2 separate regions of the Homo sapiens genome follow, and region 2 is linked to region 1. Evidence: fine-mapped expression QTL. Tissue or cell type: whole blood. Region 1 holds a variant in brackets; the other region holds the start of a gene. All regions are shown on one strand. Distances are between the middles of the regions.

Region 1 (10,537 bases):
TGTGAAAGCTAAAGTAAAAGGGGCAAGCAGAAAATTTTTAAAGGGACCGAAGTATCCTGGAAATAAGTTGGAATTCTTAAATTACATACAAAGAAGTTCTTGAAGTAAGTAAATTGGAAAAGCATCTGGGACTGAAACCTTGCCATCATTAAGACCACTATTTACTGTGAGAAATTTGCATAATTACTGTTTTATAACATCAGCCTGTTCCCTGTGTTTATGTTTATTATTAAACTAATACATTTCAGCTGCTATATCTTGTGGTTTACAAATCATCAGGAGCTTGGGACATTCGTGGTCATGTGAAGAACAAAAAAGATGTCATTCTCCGAATTACAAAACAGTCTTATCGGGAACAAACATAAACATGATGGGCAAAAAAGCAAGGCACTAAATGACCTTGCTTACAGACCTGTGAAGTTTCTACTAGGGCCCAATAAGGAGCAAAGGAAGAACACTCTGTTCTAAATTAGACAACAGTTCTAGTATATGTGTAGGTAAAGATGTGTTCTAATGTTCTGCACTTAAAGACACACTGTGAATCCTGCCTGCCAGTAGTGTACATTCAAAAAAAAGAGGAGCAAAAATACGTATGTGTTGGTGGAATTCTCGACCATTATCATTTCATTTCAAGATGAGCGGAAAAACTACCTGCCCCCATACCTTTCAACGCTCCTTGATAAGTGATAGGGAGCTACTTCTTTTCAGTTTCATGTAGGTTCCTGCAAGTCATTTGCTCCATTATTTGAAGAAACTTTCATTTGAACAAGATTACCCACTCTTTCCGTTGTGCAGTTACACCACTTAAGGCAGAACTAGTCACAGAATAATGCATGCAGTTTTTATAAGTCTTATGTCTGAAAATGCAAATTTTGGAATCTGGACAATTTGTTGCAGATTCCCAGACGATTATTATCTTCAGACAAACTGACTATTTGTGGTCAATGAGTTCATGTTTTATGTCCTTCAAAACGAATGAAAATTACTATCACTCTTTGAATGGCCCTAGAGTAGGGGAGAGGGGCTAAGTTCAGTCTCTGAGGTCAGAGCTCCATTCCAGGCCCAACTCTGCTTCTTTGAGCAGGGTTGACTTTGGCCACAGTTTCATTTCTGTAAACTGAGGTCAGCAATAGGACCTACCAATTATCTGTTGTGTAGATCAAATGATAAATGACACTCTGCATTGTGAATGGCAAACAATAAATGCTCATTAAAAAGTTTCACCCCAGGCCATGCAGGGTGGCTCACGCCTGTAACCCCAGCACTTTGGGAAGCCAAGGTGGACAGATCACTTGAGGTCAGGAGTTCAAATCCAGCCTGGACAACATGGCGAAACCGCATCTGTACTAAAAATACAAAAATTAGCCAGGCATGGTGGGGCATGCCTGTAATCCCAGTTACTCGAGAGGCTGAGGCAGGAGAATTGCTTGAACCCAGGAGGTGGAGGCTGCAGTAAGCTGAGATGGTGCCACTGCACTCCAGCCTGGGCTACAGAGCGAGACTCCATCTCAAAAAAATAAAAAGTTCACTCCTGATATGTGTGGAGCCTGGAGCAAGAATACAAATGAAGACTCATACAGCATAGATTTAAATATTTGAAAGGTAAAAAATCAAGTCAAACCATCAACTAAAATAGGTTCTATTTATTATTGTATCTATTATATAGCCTCATAATTACCTAGGATCCCTTGCAGTTCCACACCAGAATATGGTAGTTAGGAGGGAAGCAGAACTCTTCTTCTTAAGCAACAATTGCCTGTGCTACACTACCAGTGGTACAGACCATACTCAGGAGGATGGAGACTCAAAGGAGGCCCAAAGAGGTCCCAGATACAGCTTGAGAATGTTTGAGCAGAAATCCCAGAGATCTAGGCACCCACATGTCCTTTTGGCCTATGGACTCCTAACCCCACAGAATAAAGGGGTCTAGCAGGCCTCTGAAGCATGGTACCCTGACAAGGACTTCTCTTGACAAGGTCTAGAAGTTGTATGGTTTCTTATTTTTTTGTTTTGTTTTGTTTTGTTTTGTTTTGTTTTTTATTTTATTTTGAGATGAAGTCTCACTCTGTCGCCCAGGCTGGAGTGCAGTGGCCGATTTTGACTCACTGCAACCTCTGCCTCCCCAGTTCAAGTGATACTCCTGCCTCAGCCTCCCAAGTAACTGGGATTACAGGGGCCCACCACCACACCCAGCTAATTTTTTGTATTTTTAGTAGAGACGAGGTTCTGCCACAACTATGGCCTCTTAAGCATGGAGAACAACAGCCATGCACAGTCCTGGCCTCAAATGATCCACCCACCTCAGCCTCCCAAAGTGCTGGGATTACAGGTGTGAGGCACTGTGCCCAGCCTAGAAGTTGTATGTATTATTTTAAATGAATAAATTATTATTATCTGTTATAGAGTAATAAATTTGTTTTTAAAGCTCAAACAAAATAATCTGATAATATGAGATTGAATAAAAAGGGTCGGGCCTAGTGGCTCATGCCTGCAATCCCAGCACTTTGGGAGGCCAAGGAAGGCAGATCACTTGAAGTCAGGAGTTCAAGACCAACCTGGCCAACATGGTGAAACCCCATCTCCATGAAAAATACAAAAATTAACCAGGCGTGGTGGCACGTGCCTGTAATCCCAGGTACTTGGAAGGCTGAGGCAGGAGAATCACTTGAACCCAGAAGGTGGAGGTTGCAGTGAGCCAAGATCATGCCAGTGCACTCCAGCCTGGGCGACAGAGCGAGACTGCATCTCAAAAAAAAACTCTTCTACCACCCATTTATATTATTCTGTCCAAAACAGAAAGGTCCTCATCATGTTATTTTCAAAATGACTTTTTATATATGGGTTGGTAGGTGTGGATATTAAAATTCACACACCATATATTTATACATGCATATTATGGACTGAATTGTGTTCCCCAAAATTGTATGTTGACTTCTCAACCCCCAATGTGACTGTATTTGGAGATAAGGGACTTTAAAGGAGGTAATGAAGGTTCAATGAGGTTATAAGAGCAGGACTTTAATTAAGTATAACTAGTGTCTTTACAAAAAGAGGAAGAGACACCACGATGTGCACACAGAGAAAAGGCCATGTGAGGACGTAGCAAGAAGGCAGCCATCTGCGAGCCTCCAGAGAGGCCTCGAAAAACCAAACCTGCAGACAACTTGATCTTGGACTTCCAGCCTACAGAACTGTGAGAAAATAAAGCCTGTTGTTTAAACAACACAGACTGTGGTATTTTGTTGTGGCAGCCATAGTGAACTAATACACTTATTCTCACAGAAATCTGTGAAACCATTAGCTAGTTTCATTTTGTAGGTAAGAAAATTATCATTGAGATATTTTTGTTATTATAATTTATAAGAATCATTGTCTCTGCTTTCCAGAAAATCTGAGAACATTATCCTCTTAGAGGCAAAAAAAAAAAAAAAAAAGCAATTCAGTTCTATATCTCCCCCAAGATTCCTTATGAAGAAGGTGACCTAGAATTTATCCTCCAAACTGGAACACTTTTGAGAGTGAAAGGGGGTACTGTTAATAATTATGTTAGTATAAAGTTAAAAGTTGGTACTAGTCCACAGCTAGAACAATTGGTCACTATACTTAACAGAGTTTGTTTATTTTATTTATTTTTAGTAAACATTCATTGACAGGATACTAAGCACTAAAGTTACATAAATGAAAACCATGATCTCTGCACCCAAGGAACTCATAATCTATTTAGCAAAAACAGAAAGAATCTGTGTATGTTTTAATGACAACACTGTCATGAGCTCCATAGATACATATCCCAGGAGAAACAAGCTCAGATGAAGCACTAAATCAAGCTTTGAAATGCAGGGGAGAGGAAGGGTCAGGAAACGAAGCCTCGAGGAGCCAGCATTTGAGCAGAAAATACTGAGCCATGGGCTACGTGGCATTTAAGAGCTGAGTATTATAAACAGAGAAAAGTGCAAGTGTAACAGCAAAGTGGTGTATGAGAAAATATGATCCCCAAGTTCACAATCTCAATATAGTAAGCAATCAAGGGTTTAACAGGACCAAAATTACAAGCATTAATAAGGCTACATAGACTGATAAGGCTAAAGCCAATTCAGCCCTTTGAGAAACGCAGGGTCTTTTCGGAAATGTCATTAGCTGCCTGTGCTAGAATTAAGTGGCGTTATCTCCTCCCTTCTCGAAAAGCTGACCACCAAGTGGCATGTTACAATGAAAGCAAATCCCCAGTGAATACCTGGCTTTTATTACGGTTCAAAAGGACCGGTTTGTTATATCCTTCCTCTCTAGATTCAGAATCAATCAAGAAATATGAAAAAAGTCAAATAAGAATCTGAATATATCCCTTATTGTTGGAAAGAGTAGACTGGGACCTCATTTGGAAGTGTAAAAATGTGAGACTTGGTATTTTATTTTAAGTATACAATCAGCAAGAAGAAAAATCTAAACTAAGGGCTTGAGATAGTTTCCTATCTAAAGAGAATGCGCAGAGTTTAAATGTAGGTAAGGTCAATTTTAGTAAGATCAATGAAGTCATAGTCATGGGTTAATTATCAAAAGGTTGGTGCGTAAATTCAATTTCCTATGACAAATAAAATGTATAACTTTAGTGAGCTGACACAATTTCCTACAACAAACACTTGAATAAGACTTAAGGTTAACATAGTCTTAATATTATAGGTTATAACCTTGGGAGATTAAAAATAAAACTGTATTTAATCTTCCTTACCTGAAATGAAATAGTAAATAC[C/A]AGCCTTACACTTTGAATTCTTAAAGCATTTGTGTCAACAATGTTTATTCAGACTCTATAGTTCTTTAATTTTAAACAACTTTGAACTTATCTGCTCAATTCAACAAAATAGCTGGATAATGCCCAGCTGAGAGAGAGAGAGAAAGAACTCTAGCAAACCATAGGCTAGGGTTATATAGTGAACCCTTTGTTCCAATCTCACCAAAAAGTTAAGTCACTCCCCCTCCTGGATATAAGATAGGTTAGAGATGTGGAGAAGGATGAAATATTACTCCTCCCAAATGGGTGCTTCTAAATGGGTGAAAGTGTTGGGGGTGTATGTTCCCATTTTATGACCAGCAGGGACTTGGGAGAGGGAAAAAAATGATTCCCCCAGAGATAAGATTGCTCAGGAAGCATATGAAGAGGAAGAAAAGGAGCCCCATTATGGATTCTTGAAGAAAACAAACAATAAAAGTGTAGTTAGGAAAAATAAAAGCCACCAAAAGAAAAAGGGGTAGCCAGAAAGATAGGAGAAGAAAAAAGGGTGTTGTCTCAGAAGCATCAAGTCAAGTAAATGTCTATTGGAAAGAGTTTCAGCAAGATAAATTGTTCAAGCTTACCAAAGACGACAATCTACAATCATCAAAATAAAGACCACGTGTTATAAGCCCCTGTATGTCAGGAGTATTGCTACATGTGTAGCTCAACCAATCCTCTAAATAGGAGGTATTATTCCCACTTCACGGAGAAGAAAACTGAGATTCAAATGATTCAAATAGTTTAAGCAACTTGACCCGATCACCTCAGACAGAGCTAAACTCATTTCTTTCTGACCACAGAGTATATTATCTTTCTACCATGCTGTGAGGCCTCTGAGAATGTGGGACTTGGCTGATACAGCACACAGGTCTTATGCACCTTGTCAGAGACTCTCAGGGCCAGCAGTAGGCTCTCAGGTGTTCGCCCCTTCCCCTGCAGCCACTCCTGCCACCACAGCCTTCCAACTCCACCGGGATCTCCTATTATCCTGTGCCTGCAGTTGATGAGTTGCTTGTATTAGTACAAACACAGGTAATATTAGTATTTGTATTAGTACTGCACAGATAGTAGCTTTTTTATCTCAGAGTATCTGTGGTCAGCAATCTGGGCTGTTTTCTCTGGCTTTGGGTCACTCATCAGGCTGCATTTAATGTGTCAGTTGGAACTACGTCATACAAGGCTAAACTGAGGAAGAGAGAAAGCTTATGCATATCACTGTTAACAGTATTCAGTTCCTCAGAGCTGTTAGCCAGAGGCCTCTCTTAGCTTCCTGCCACATGGGCTTCCCTGTAGAGCATCCCACAATGTGGCAGGTGGCTTCATCAGAGAAGCCAAAGGAGTATGTGTGCCAATGAGATGAAGTCACAGTCTTTTAAACCTAATCTCAGAAGGGACAGCCCATCACTTTTTCAGTATTGTCTTCATTAGTAGTATATCACTAGAACTAGCCCACACTGAAGAAGGGATCACACAAGGACATAAAGAACAGGAGATGAGGGCTGGGCTTGGTGGCTCATGCCTGTAATCCCAGCACTTTGGGAGGCCGGGGCAGGCAGATCACTTGAAGTCAGGAGTTCCAGACCAGCCTGGCCAACATGGTGAAACCCCGTCTCTACTAAAAATATGAAAATTAGCCTGTCACGGTGACACATGCCTGCAATCCCAGCTGCTCAGGGGGCTGAGGCAGGAGAATTCATTGAATCTGGGAGGCGGAGGTTGCAGTGAGCCGAGACAACAGAGTGAGACTCCATCTCAACAACAACAACAAAAACCCAGGAGGTGGGGACCACTGTGAACCATTTCAGATTTCAGAAGCTGCCTACTCCACCCAGAATCTTGCTTGGCTGTCTCTTCCCACCTTGAAGTTCTGGCTCCTTCTACCATTTCCAGACTTGGAAGAACCACCACAAAGCAAAGCGTAGCATTTTGCTTCCCTGGTAGCTCCTAAAAGTGCTGGCTGATGTTCCTCTGAAGTGAGCAGAGGTTAACTCCCAAGGGGCCAACTCTCACCAGTGGAATGTAAGAGAAAAGAAGGTAAGTTCCCTCTTCTTCCTTTTTCCCATGGTAAGCACAGTGTCTCTGTTCTGCTGCTACAGAGCAAATCAGCCACAAATACAGAGACTGGGATGACTGCCTGGCCCTGCCCCTGCTCAGAGCCCCAACCCTGCCTCCCCACCGCCTTCCCACCTCCACCTGTCTTACCTTGAGCTGACACATCAACACTTCTCCAGCACCTTCACTGGCTCCCTGTCCTTGACGTGGCAGGGGTGCATTTTGCAACTGGGTGCTGAAGTAATGTCCAGGAAGTAATGTGCCCTTTGATGAAGCAACCAATGTTAGCTGCTGCTCATTCCATTTGGCATCTGCAGGGACCATAGGTCATCCTTCACTTGCTTAGATGGGTCCTGAAGGAACTCTGGCCAGTGTTGCCTGGCTGGTGGTCACCACCAGAGGTGCTAGCAGTGCAGGTCCCACTCAACCACCCTGAGGACTGTGGGATTCACTATCTGGGAACACACCTGCTTCTCCTTCACAGCCCACCAGGATACCACAGTACATCAAGAAGAACAGGTGTTGGGGACCAGCCTCATCACCACCCATAGGGTATCCAAAGTCTGGTGGCAATGGAGGAATGAGAAGAGACAGGTTAAGAGTGCATAAAGAGTGGGGACCAGGGGGCCAATTGCAAAATGGAGGCTGTAAAAGGCCCCAAGCTCTGGTCTCCACGCTATTTATTGAATACAGTCACTTAGATCTAAGAAGCAGACATTCAGGGAACGGTGAAAGGGAGACAGTGCATCATACACATAATCTATAACAGTGGTGGTTTAAATTAATCTCCTTTGTGCTCAAACAGCATATCTTTAATTTATCGGAGAGTAGCTAGTGGGAGCAGGCTTAACTAGGATCCTGCACGTCTGGCCACATTCCAATGTTCAAAGGAGTGTCTTTCTCCTTGAACACAGTGTTTATGGATAAGAGAGCAAGTCTCGCTCAGAGCATGGGAACATAATGGCGATAAGAAGGCTTTCCTCCTCAGAGGCCTCTTGTGGCTTTCCACAACTTATTGTCCCATATTTTTATGGCCAGTTTATACAGGCACCCTGTAAGCCTTTCCCCCAACAAACAGGTGCCAGGGTGACATGACACATATACTACAGATCATTGGGTTTGGTCCTCAATTAAGTGGAGTTTCAGTAGAGCTGGGGACAGGCAGAGAATTAAGGACCTGAGGTTTAATCTTGATGCTGCAAAGCCTAATATTCAATCAGAATCGGAAATAATTAGTACATCAATAAATGCATTATTCAGGGTTTCCAGAGAAACAGAACTAACAGGAGATGTATATATATATATATATATATATATATATATATATAGAGAGAGAGAGAGAGAGAGAGAGAGAGAGAGAGAGAGAGAGAGAGAGAGACAGAGAGAGAGACAGAGAGACAGAGAGACAGAGAGAGATTGATTTAATTTTAAGGAATTGGCTCACATAATTGCAGAAGCTTTGCAAGTCCAAAATCTGGAGGGTAAACTTGCAGGCTGGAGACCCAAGGAAGAGCAGCAGTCTGATTCCAGAAGCCATCTGCTGGCAGAATTCCGTCTTGCTGAGGGGTGGGCATCTCTGTTCTGTTTAGGCCTTCAACTGATTGGATGAGGCCCGCCCACATTATGGAGGGTTATCTGCTTTACTCAAAGTTCAACAGTTAAAATGTTAATCTCATCCAAAAAACACCTTCACGGAAAGATCCAGAATAAATTTTGACCAACTGTATAGGCACCATGGCCCATACAAACTGACTCATAAAATTAACCATCACAATAGGATATCAAATATTCCTTTGTGTTGAAAGCCCAGATCCACCATTTTCTCCTTAAGGAGGAATAGCTTCAAATTGGCCCAGAATTTCACCAAACGGTTTCTCTTTGGTGCTTTGAGTCCCAAGATGAGAGTATTTTTTCTCTTGCGTTTTCGACTCCACATACTTTTTGTCCAGTAGCTGTATATAGCCTTCTTGTAAGAATCCAGCCCTCCAATTTATAAAACTAAAATAGGAAGTAATCTTTAGAAGCACTCTGCTAAACTTAATGCTGGAAATTCTGGAACTGTATTGGGATCTAGGGACTCAGAGAATAAATTACATAACTTTCCCTCCTGCCTTTGTATTTAATGAAATGTTTGTTCTCATGTGACAGAGGGGACAAAACTGGAAGGTGACCAGGGAATATATTGTAATAGCAGAGCTTATACAAAAATTAATACAAAAATTAGCCAGTCATGGTGGTGCACTTCTGTAATCCCAGCTACTCGGGAGGCTGAGGCAGGAGAATCCCTTGAACCAGGAGGCAGAGATTGCAATGAGCCGAAATCATGCTACTGTACTCCAGCCTGGGCCACAGAACAAGACTCAGTCTCAAAAAAAAAAAACTAAAAATTCAGATTTCTCATGTCCCTCCCCAGGTAGCTTGACTTGGTAAGTGGTTCTGGGAAGGGACCTGGAATCTGTTTGTGAAACTGTTGAGCAAGTTCAGAAACTCTGTGGCAATAAAGAACCGGCAGAGAGGGAGGAAGCAAATGACCCCTGCCTTGGGGCCAGGACTCACCCATATTCTTACTCTCTGACCCCTCAAAGCCATGGTACCTGTGACTGCAAGTTCTTTCCTCTCCTTCTAGAACTAAATGTGTGTCTACTAAAACATCTGCGGCATCACTATTACTTATTTGAACTGTCTCTTTACCTGCCTGTGCTACCCATACGTAACAAAGACAAAGTCCTCCTTGAAGATTAGCCAGATGCCTGTTTCTCTGAGGTAGGCTTAGGTCTTTTGGCTACAGATCAAAACTGTCAATAACTTTACTGTCACTCTGAACTGTTGGTCTATCGTGAGATTCCTGGGAATTGTCTAGAGAAATGATTGAAATAGACTTTTGCTTTCCTTCAGCTTTGGCTCAGTCCTTACAGATTTCCCAAATCCCTCTTGACTTGATGAACATTGATTAGATTCCTCTTCTTCCTCATCTCCCAGTTATCAATGTTATTTTGTTACTTTTGCTTTTCATGTTTCTACACTACCAATAACTTTAAGTACGCCAGTGCTTGATTTCAGCCTCACATCCTTCCTTTCAGGAGTCCTATTTTCTCTGTTCCATGCAATTCCAACCATCAGACCTCCCTACATTCACTGCTAAAGATTCAGCCTTGCCAGTCAGACCTCCCATTTCCCAGGTTTCAATGAGTGCTTGATTGGTTCAGAGTAAACTCATATCTCACGCAAGACTAATCAGAGTTATTTTTGTTTTTTGAGAGACTGATGCGGATGCAGAAATTGTAGAGAATACTTAAGAGTTAGAAGAAAAATTTAGGTCTGAATATACTTGGGACCCTCTTCCCTATCATTTGAAAAGACAGAGACATGAAGCCAGCAAAAACGCAAAGAGAGCCAAGAATAGAAAAAAAGAAGCAGATATTTGACAGCATTATCTGAGCACCTGGAGATAAACATGCTTAATGCTGTAAATCTTGGACTTGCCACTCATGTGAACTGATCATTTCTTTTCTTTTGCCTAAACTGGTTCAAGGTATGCTTCTGTCATTTGTAAAGAAAAGAGACCTGACCAATTTGCCTCCATTTCCACATAGCAACTCCTCAGTCACTTTTGGGGAAGGAAAAATATTTCGCCATCATTATATACTTTACACTTGCACAGAAACTGTGCTTCTCCTTTTTCCCTTTCTTTTCTTAACCTTGACTAACTAAATAACT
Region 2 (10,537 bases), 34 kb after region 1:
GCAGCATCAACTCTTGCCTGAGATTCCAGCCTACTCAGCTGCCCAACAGATTTCAGACTTGCCAGCTTCCATAATCACGTGAGCAAAATATTTAAAATGAAGGGATGGCTCTGGTCAGAGCAATTAACCAAGGAAAAGAAATGAAAGTGTTCAAATTGGGAGAAAAAAAGTATAACTATCTCAGTTCACAGATTACATGATTCTATATATAGAAATCCTAAAGAATATACACATGTAGGCACACATACAAAATTAATAGAGCTAATAAGTAAATGTTCAGAGTACAAGGCCAACACTTGCTATGGTTTGAATATATCCCCCCAAAGGACGTGCTAGAAACTTAACCCATAATGCAACAATGTTGGGTGGTAAGGCCTAATGTAAGTTGTTTAGGTCATGAGGTCTCACCCTCATGAATAGATTAATGCCAATTGTAAAAGAACTTGAGGCTTCAAGTTTGATCCCTTGCTCTCTAGCCCTCTCTTTGTCCTTCCACCATGGGATAACATACATACCAAGTAGGCTCTCACCAGATGCTAGCCCTTCAATCTTAGAATCTTCAGCATCCAGAACCGTGAGCCAATAAACTTCTGTTTATTATATGTTACCCAGTCTGTAGTATTCTGTTACAGCAGCAGAAAATAGACTAAGAGAATACCCCAAAATCAATTGTGTTTCTATACATCAGCAATCACCAATCTGGAAAATTAAAAACAATTTCATTTATAATAGCATTTGCTAAGAACTAAATATGTCCCCTCAAAATTCACATATTGAAGCTCAAACCCCCAGTGTCACTGTATTTGGAGATGGGACCTATATAAGAAGGTAACTGAGGTTAAATTGATCACAAGAGTGGAGTTCTGATGCTATAGATTAGTATCTTTATAAAAAAAAAAAACAACAAAAACGACCAGATATCTTTCTCTGTGTGTTTCTCTGTCTGTTTCCCTTTCCTTCTCCCGCTTCCTTTATCATATGAGAATGCAGAAAGAAGGTGGCTATCTACTCGCCAGTAAAAGAGCCCTCACCAGAAACCAAATTGGCAAGCACCTTGATCTTGGACTGCACAGCCTCTAGAACTATGAGAAATAAATTTCTGTCGCTTAGGCCATTCAGTTTATGGTATTTTGTTATGGCGGCTTGAGCAAACTAAGATAGATTTTGCTACCAAGAAGTTGCATGTTGCTTTAATAAAACCTAAACATGTGAAAGTGGTTTTGGAACTAGGTAATGGGTAGAGGCTGAAAGAATTCTGAGGTGCATGCTAGAAAAAGCCTAGATTTCCATGCTAGAAATATGGATGTTAAAGGCAATTCTGGTAAGAACTCAGAAATACAGTTGAAGAGAAAGCCTCCATCTTCTTAGAGAAAACATAATCATGAACACAATTTTGGTAAATATATGTTTGTTAAAGGCCATTCTTGTGAGGTCTCAGATGGAAATGAAGAATGGGTCACTGGAAGACAGAAGAAAGGCAGTCCTTGTTATAAAGTAGCAAATAACTTGGCTGACTTGTTTTCTAGTGTTTTCTGGCAGACAGAATTTGTGAATGATAAAATTGAATATTTAACTGAGATTTTTAAGCAAAATGCTGAAAGTGCGACCTGGATCTTCCTGAATGCTTATAGTAAAATGCAAGAAGAGATGAATGAAAGAAGAAATTATTAAGCAAAAAGGAACCAAGACTCAAATATTTGGAAAATTATCTGCCTGTCATGTTGCAGAAAATGAGAAAGTACATTCTAAAGAAAACACCAAAGGTATGGTTAGACTATCATTTGATAAATAAATGATGAGATTATATGAGCAGAAACACTGCCTGTTTCAACTGAAGGGGATGCAGACAAGACAAAAATGACAGAAGGCTTTTACATGTCCTAGATTCTACAGGACAGGACAATAGAGCTATCCAGCTGCTAACTTTGTACTATTCCTTTTTTTTTTTTTTTTTGAGACAGATTCTCACTCCATTGCCCAGGCTAGAGTGCAATGGCGGGATCTCAGCTCACTGCAACTTTCACCTCCCAGGTTCAAGTGATTCTCCTTCCTCAGCCTCCCAAGTAGCTGAGATTATAGGCATGCACCACCAGGCCAGGCTAATTTTTGTATATTTAGTAGAGATGGGGTTTCACTATGTTGTCCAGGCTGGTCTCAAACTCCTGACCTCGTGATCTGCCCACCTTGGCCTCCCAAAGTGTTGGGAGTACAGGCGTGAGCCACCGCACCTGGCCAAACTTGTGCTATTCTTTAAGAAAAGGGGAGAATGACCTCAAAGCAATTCAGATGTTATCAAGGCCATTACCTAGCAAAACTTTTGGGATGAGACTCTGCCTGGAAGAGCATGCCTGGCAGAGTGTGGGGAGAGGTATAGCATCCACCTAGGGTCCAGAAGGCAGGGCCACCACCCTTGTAGGTCTGGAAGGCAGGGCACTGAATCAAAATGGATTATTCTTGAGCCTTAAAATCTACTAGAATTTGCCTTGCTAGATTTTTGGACTTGCTTGGGACCTGTCATCCCTTCCTTTTTGCCTATTTCTTTTATTTCCTTCCTTTCTTGCTCCTATTTTTGTTTGTTTGTTTGTTTGGAATGCCTATTCTATGCCTGTTCTGCCATTGTATTTTGGAAGCAAACAACTTCCCTGGTTTTACAGTTTCATAGCTGGGGAGAAAATTTGCATCAGGATGAATCATATCTCAAGTCTCACCCTTATCTGTTTTAGGTGATATTTAGAAGAGACTTCGGACTTCAGATTTTAGAGTTGATGCTTTTGAGACTGTTGAAGTGGTATGAATGTATTTTGTATTCAATAAGGACATGAATTGCAGGGGTACAGAAGTCTGTTGACCAAATTATATCTCCACAAAATTCATATATGTAACCCCAAACCCCAATGTCACTGTATTGGAGATAAGATCTATAAGGAGGTAATTAAGGTTTAAGAAGATCATAAAGGTGGGGCCCTTATCCAATAGAATTAGTTACTCATAAGAAGAGACATGAAAGCTAGTGTGCTTGCACAATGGATTCTTGGTGATGACACCAAAAGCACAAGTAACAAAATAGATAAATTAGATTTCATCAAAATTAAAAAGGTTTGTACACTGAAGGATATTACAAAGAAAGTGAAAAGACAACCTACAGAATGGGAGAAAGTATCCACCAATGATATATCTCATAAGGGTCTAATATCCAGAATATATGACTACACATAACTAACAACAAAAACACAAACAACTCAATTTAAAAATGGGGAAATACCTGAATAGAGAGTTCTCCAAAGAAGATATACAAATGGCTAACAAGGGCATGAAAAGATGCTCAAGATAACTAGCCATTAGGGAATGCAAATCAAACCCACAATAAAATACCACTTTATACCCTTTGGGATGGTTACTATCAAAGGAATAGAAAATTATGGTGTTAGTGAGGATGTGGAGAAATTGGAATCCCCCGACAATGCTCTTGGTATGTAAAATGAATGGTTCAGCTGCTGTAGAAACATTTGTTTATGGGTTCCTCAAATATTTTCACGTAGAATTACTATAAGACCCAGAAGTTCCACTATGTTTATACCCAAAAGAATTGAAAACAGGGACTCGAACAAATACTTGTATACAAATGTTCATATCATTGCTATTCACAATAGCCCGAAAGTGGAAACAACCCAAATGTCCATCAGTGGATGGACAGGTAAAACTGTGGCATCTAGGTACAGTGGAATAGTAGCCATAAAGAGACATGAAGTACCGATACATGCAACAAGGTGTACAAGGTGAACCTGCAAAAGATTATGCTACGAAGACAGACCAAAAGGTCACACATTCCATTTATATGAAATATCCGTAATAGGTACCACAGTTTGAAAGCTGATTGGCATTTGCCAGGGGCTGAGAGAGGGAGGAATGGGAGTAACCACTTAATGTGTTCGGATTTTATTTTGGAGTGTACTTTAATACACTTATAATGTGTGCAACCACTAACTCTAATTCCAAGACACTTTCATTCATTATGACCCTTGGCATTGTGAACGGCAAATAATAAATGCTCATTAAAAAGATTCACCCCAGGCCGTGCATGATGGCTCACGCCTGTAATCCCAGCACTTTGGGAGGCCAAGGCGGGTGGATCACTTGAGATGAGGAGTTCAAGAGCAGCCTGCCCAACATAGTGAAACAGTCTCTACTAAAAATACAAAAATTAGCCGGGTGTGGTGGTGCACGCCTATAATCCCAGCTACTCCGGAGACTGAGGCAGGGAGAATCGCTTGAACCCAGGAGGCAAAGGTTGCAGTTAGCTGAGATTTCTCCACTCCACTCCAGCCTGGGCGACAGAGCGAGACTCTGTCTGAAAAACAAACGAACAAACAAAACAAAACAGACCTTACAATGTGTGCTAGTAATGCGGTTTCTGAATTTTTAGAACCCTTCTCTGGGGTGGTTTTTTTAAAAACATAAACTCATTGGCAGTTGATATACTACAGAAGGTTGTACGCATTGGACTAGTAAATGTAGGTAACGGTGTCGCTGTTTTTCCATTTGTATGTGCTAAGCAAAGAGAAAAGCTAGTTCTATGTTTCTTCCACTCTAGAAATTCAACAGGGTCGTTTTTCCCCAAATTCACATCTACACCCTCCCTCCCACTTTGCGGACTCGGACTCCAGGATTGAGCAGAGATCCTGGGCCCCGCCTCCCGCCCGGACGCAAGTCTCTGCGGGCCTCACCGGCGTCCTGCGCGGAACGCAGCGCTCCAGGCTCCTGGCAGCGGCCCCGCCCTCCCGGCTCCTCCCCTTCCGCCCGCCTTCCCCGCCCCTCGGCCCAGCCTGCCAATCGGAAGTGCGGCCGCCGGAACTGGCTGTTGGTGGGGGTGCAGCACTGAGCCGCCGACGGGGCGGGTGGGCTTTGCTGCCGAGCAGGCGGCGCCGTCTTGGGGCCTAGCGGCGAGGCGACCCGCACAGGTGGGCGGTGGCGGTAGGTGGGTGGCCAGCGACTGGCAACGCGGTGGCTTAGACGCGCGAGATCCGGCCAGGGTCAGAGGTGAGCGGGCCGCATCCCAGAGCCCGCTGGAGGAAGACGGGGTCCCCAGAGACCCGGCAGGCCGGGGCGGAGGTTGAGGCAGCTAAACTCCAGGTGGACGCCTACATCGCCTTTCGCGGTGTTGCTAAGCCGAACTTTTAATTTTAGTTTGACTTTTGGGTTCCAGAGACGGGTATTTCCGGACACTGGCAAGAATTTTGCCTTGCGTGTCTTCGAAGGCGGTTTTCTTGGTGTCCATATTGCATAAAGGCTTGTCGCTCCTCTGTGGAGATGACGGTTGTACAGGTAAAGCCTAAGTTGTGACAAAAGCTCCTGCAATGGGAAGACTCTGGTCGATCAGGGAAATCAGTAGAATTGATAGCAACGCGTAGAATTGATAGCAACGCTTAGAATTGGATTAATTACTGGCCATGGTTACCCGGCGCTCAGAAATGAACTTGGAGAACAGTTGCCCTGGAAGCCATCTCCCGTAGCCACTGCGTAGTGGGGGCCGCGTCTTCTTGAGTGCAATTCATCAAAGTCTCTAGTAGGACTCAAAATATAAAGTGACGAGCAGGATTTTCGGAGTCGAGTACAGTGTACTTGGGTTGATCACCATGTTATAAAGTTAGATCCAAATTAAGAAATACATATTCGTCTCTGAGCAGAATTGGGTCCTTTTTTTAATTGCTTTGCTTTTTTTAAAGAAATGTAAAAACAGATGCCGGTTTGATTAGTTTGCAGGTTGTAATATTGGAAGGGACCTAAGATTGGACACAGAGTTCTGAATTCTGATCTAGGTCTGTGATGTTAGGAAAGTCAGTTGTTCTGATTGCCTTATTCTGTAAAACGGAAATGATAATGATTACAGTTTCCTCACAGGTTCTAGTAAATTCTGTGTATAGACAGAATGTTTGCTTTGTGAGAGATATGAAGTTATTAGTTTTTGTCTGAAGTACTTAAATAATTTAAAGTTAGTAAGCCCCCATCCCCAATTTAGTGACAAGAAATCTTAAAGTCATCACATTTTGTCCGAAAAGTACATAGTGTATCTTCATCTTCAAATTCAGTGGTCAGAAAATTTTCACGTTCACCTAAATTCAACTTAAACCTCCTACGAGCTTTTCAAGGGTAGGAGTAATATCTTACTCATTGTAAATGATCGTAAATCATTTACAGTTGTATGGTGCTTGTGTTTGTGTTGTATTAGGAGGTTAGTCCATTTTTTAAAGTTTCAGACGGAGTTTCACTCTTGTTGTCCAGGCTGGAGTGCAATGGGGCGATCCTGGCTCACTGCAACCTCTGCCTCCCAGTTCAAGCCATTCTCCTGCCTCAGCCTCCGGAGTAGCTGGGATTACAGGTGTGTGCCAACACACCCGGCTAATTTTTAATTTTTTTAGTAGAGACTGGGTTTCACCATTGTTGGTCAGGCTGGTCTCGAATTCCTGACCTCAAGTGACCCACCCGCTTCTGCCTCTTACAGGCCTGAGCCACCGCCCCAGCCAACTTTTTTTTTTTTTTTTTTTTGAGACGGAGTCTCTCTATGTCGTCCAGGCTGCAGTGCAGTGGCGCGATCTTCGCTCACTGCAGCCTCCACCTCCCAGGTTCAAGTGATTCTCTTGCCTCAGCCTCCTGAGTAGCTGGGATTTCAGGTGTACGCCACCACACCCGGCTGATTTTTGTGTTTTTAGTAGAGACGGGGTTTCGCCATGTTGTCCAGGCTGGTCTCGAACTCCAGGGCTGAAGCAATCCACCTGCCTTGGCCTCCCAAAGTGCTGGGATTATAGGTGTGAGCCACTGCACCCGGCCTTCTGTATTTTTTTGTAGAGACACTTTCCCCATGTTGCTCAGGCAGGTCTGGAACTACTGCTCCTGGGCTCAGGCCATCTGGCAGCCTCTGCCTCCCAAAGTGCTGGGATTACTGGCGTGAGCCACACCCCACCTGGCCCTTTCCTTTTTTTTTTTTTTTTTTTTTTAATGGCTTGGCAAAAAACAAAGCTTTGGGGTTCACCAAAAATCAAAGCAAAACTGTTTTACCTGGAAAATCTTGTTTTCTGTCATCAGAAGTTGTGCTTTAGTTCAGCTGTGTAGACACCCAGTAGTGGTTACATGAAGTTAGGTGAATAGATTAAAAATAATTTTTATTTGTCATCAGTCTCAGAGCAAATGTTTTCTATTTATTTTTATTTCTAACTTTTTTTTTTTTGAGACAGGGTCTTGCTCTTTTACCCAGGCTGGAGTACAGTGGTGTGATCATGGCTCACTGCAGCCTCTATTTCCCAAGCTTAAGTGATCCTCCTGCCTCAGCCTACCGAGTAGCTGGGACCTGTGCCACCATGCTGGACTAATTTTTTTTTCTTCCCTTAGTAGTGACAAGTCTCACTATGTTGCCCAGGCTGGTCTCAAACTCCTCAGCTCAGATGATCCTCTCACCTGGGCCTCCCAAAGTCCTGGGGTTACAGGTGTGAACCACCATGCCCAGTCTTATCTCAGAGCAAATGTTACGCACCATCCTTTGCTAGGCAGAGTGAGCTTCAACCCTGGCAGCACGTTTGACTCGTCTGGGGAGCTCCAAAAATGGGGACTGTGCCTCACTCTAGACCACTTAATCAGTCTCAAGCAGGTGGGTCACAGGCATCCCACAGTTTGAAGCTCTGCAAGTTACTCTTGTGCAGCCAGGATAAGAACTCCTGTAGTTATAGAAAAGAAGATTTTCTTTTTTTTTTTTTCTTTTTATTATACTTTAAGTTTTAGGGTACATGTGCACAACGTGCAGGTTTGTTACATATGTATACATGTGCCATGTTGGTGTGCTGCACCCATTAACTTGTCATTTAACATTAGGTATATCTCCTCATGCTATCCCTCCCCCCTCCTCCCACCCCAAAACAGGCCCTGGTGTGTGAAGTTCCCCTTCCTGTGTCCATGAGTTCTCATTGCTCAATTCTCACCTATGAGTGAGAACATGCAGTGTTTGGTTTTTTGTCCTTGCGATAGTTTGCTGAGAATGATGGTTTCCAGCTTCATCCATGTCACTGCAAAGGACATGAACTCATCATTTTTTATGGCTGCATAGTATTCCATGGTGTATATGTGCCACATTTTCTTAATCCAGTCTATCATTGTTGGACATTTGGGTTGGTTCCAAGTCTTTGCTACTGTAAATAGTGCTGCAATAAACATACGTGTGCATGTGTCTTTATAGCAACATGTTTTATAATCCTTTGGGTATATACCCAGTAATGGGATGGCTGGGTCAAATGGTATTTCTACTTCTAGATCCTTGAGGAATCGCCACACTGACTTCCACAATGGTTGAGCTAGTTTACAGTCCCACCAACAATGTAAAAGTGTTCCTATTTCTCCACATCCTCTCCAGCACCTGTTGTTTCCTGACTTTTTAATGATCGCTATTCTAACTGGTGTGAGATGGTATCTCATTGTGGTTTTGATTTGCATTTCTCTGATGGCCAGTGATGAGCATTTTTTCATGTGTCTTTTGGCTGTATAAATGTCTTCTTTTCAGAAGTGTCTGTTCATATCCTTCGCCCACTGATTGATGGGGTTGTTTGTTTTTTCCTTGGAAGTTTGTTTGAGTTCATTGTAGATTCTGGATATTAGCCCTTTGTCAGATGAGTAGATTGCAAACATTTTCTCCCATTCTGTAGGTTGCCTGTTCACTCTGATGGTAGTTTCTTTTGCTGTGCAGAAGCTCTTTAGTTTAATTAGATCCCATTTGTCAATTTTGGCTTTTGTTGCTATTGCTTTTGGTGTTTTAGACATGAAGTCCTTGCCCTCGCCTATGTCCTGAATGGTATTGCCTAGGTTTTCTTCTAGGGTTTTTATGGTTTTAGGTCTAACATTTAAGTCTTTAATCCATCTTGAATTAATTTTTGTGTAAGGGCTAAGGAAGGGATCCAGTTTCAGCTTTCTACATATGGCTAGCCAGTTTTCCCAGCACCATTTATTAAATAGGGAATCCTTTCCCCATTGCTTGTTTTGGTCAGGTTTGTCAAAGATCAGATGGTTGTAGATATGTGGCATTATTTCTGAGGGCTCTGTTCTGTTCCATTGGTCTATATCTCTGTTTTGGTACAAGTACCATGCTGTTTTGGTTAATGTAGCCTTGTAGTATAGTTTGAAGTCAGGTAGCGTGATGCCTCCAGCTTTGTCTTTTGGCTTAGGATTGACTTGGCAATGTGGGCTCTTTTTTGGTTCCATATGAACTTTAAAGTAGTTTTTTCCAATTCTGTGAAGAAAGTCATTGGTAGCTTGATGGGGATGGCGTTGAATCTATAAATTACCTTGAGCAATATGGCGATTTTCACGATATTGATTCTTCCTACTCATAAGCATGGAATGTTCTTCCATTTGTTTGTATCCTCTTTTATTTCCTTGAGCAGTGGTTTGTAGTTCTCCTTGAAGAGGTCCTTCACATCCCTTGTAAGTTGTATTCCTAGGTATTTTATTCTCTTTGAAGCAATTGTGAATGGGAATTCACTCATGATTTGGCTCTGTGTTTGTCTGTTATTGGTGTATAAGAATGCTTGTGATTTTTGCACATTGATTTTGTATCCTGAGACTTTGCTGAAGTTGCCTATCAGCTTAAGGAGTTTTTGGTCTGAGACAATGGGGTTTTCTAGATATACAATCATGTCATCTGCAAACAGGGACAATTTGACTTCCTCTTTTCCTAATTGAATACCCTTTATTTCCTTCTCCTGCCTAATTGCCCTGGCCAGAACTTCCAACACTATGTTGAATAGGAGTAGTGAGAGAGGTCATCCCTGTCTTGTGCCAGTTTTCAAAGGGAATGCTTCCAGTTTTTGCCCATTCAGTATGATATTGGCTGTGGGTTTGTCATAAATAGCTCTTATTATTTTGAGATACGTCCCATCAATACCTAATTTATTGAGAGTTTTTAGCATGAAGCGTTGTTGAATTTCGTCAAAGGCCTTTTCTGCATCTATTGAGATAATCGTGGTTTTTGTCATGGGTTCTGTTCATATGCTGGATTACGTTTATTGATTTGCGTATGTTGAACCAGCCTTGCATCCCATGGATGAAGCCCACTTGATCATGGTGGATAAGCTTTTTGATGTGCTGCTGGATTCGATTTGCCATTATTTTATTGAGGATTTTTGCATCGATGTTCATCAGGGATATTGGTCTAAAATTCTCTTTTTTTGTTGTGTCTCTGCCAGGCTTTGGTATCAGGATGATGCTGGCCTCATAAAATGAGTTAGGGAGGATTCCCTCTTTTTCCATTGATTGGAATAGTTTCAGAAGGAATGGTACCACCTCCTCCTTGTACCTCTGGTAGAATTCGGCTGTGAATCCATCTGGTCCTGGACTTTTTTTGGTTGGTAAGCTATTAATTATTGCCTCAATTTCACAGCCTGTTATTGGTCTATTCAGAGATTCAACTTCTTCCTGGTTTAGTCTTGGGAGGGTGTATGTGTCGAGGAATTTATCCATTTCTTCTAGATTTTCAAGTTTATTTGCGTAGAGGTGTTTATAG

What was found. PIP is the estimated chance that this variant, and not a neighbour inherited with it, causes the effect.
Region 2: SUPT20H starts here. The variant in region 1 is fine-mapped to the expression of SUPT20H in whole blood (INTERVAL, PIP 0.97).

Annotation. Positions count from the first base shown.
Region 1 is chr13:37,087,582-37,098,118 of GRCh38, reverse strand. No RefSeq gene overlaps it. Among named protein-coding and RNA genes, the nearest start is that of CSNK1A1L, 13 kb to the left of the region's middle. The variant C/A (reference allele first, on the strand shown) is at 4,748.
Region 2 is chr13:37,053,980-37,064,516 of GRCh38, reverse strand. SUPT20H (SPT20 homolog, SAGA complex component) reads left to right here and starts at 4,829. Exons shown (of 26, transcript NM_001014286.3): 1 at 4,829-4,958. RefSeq lists a silencer at 4,658-4,917.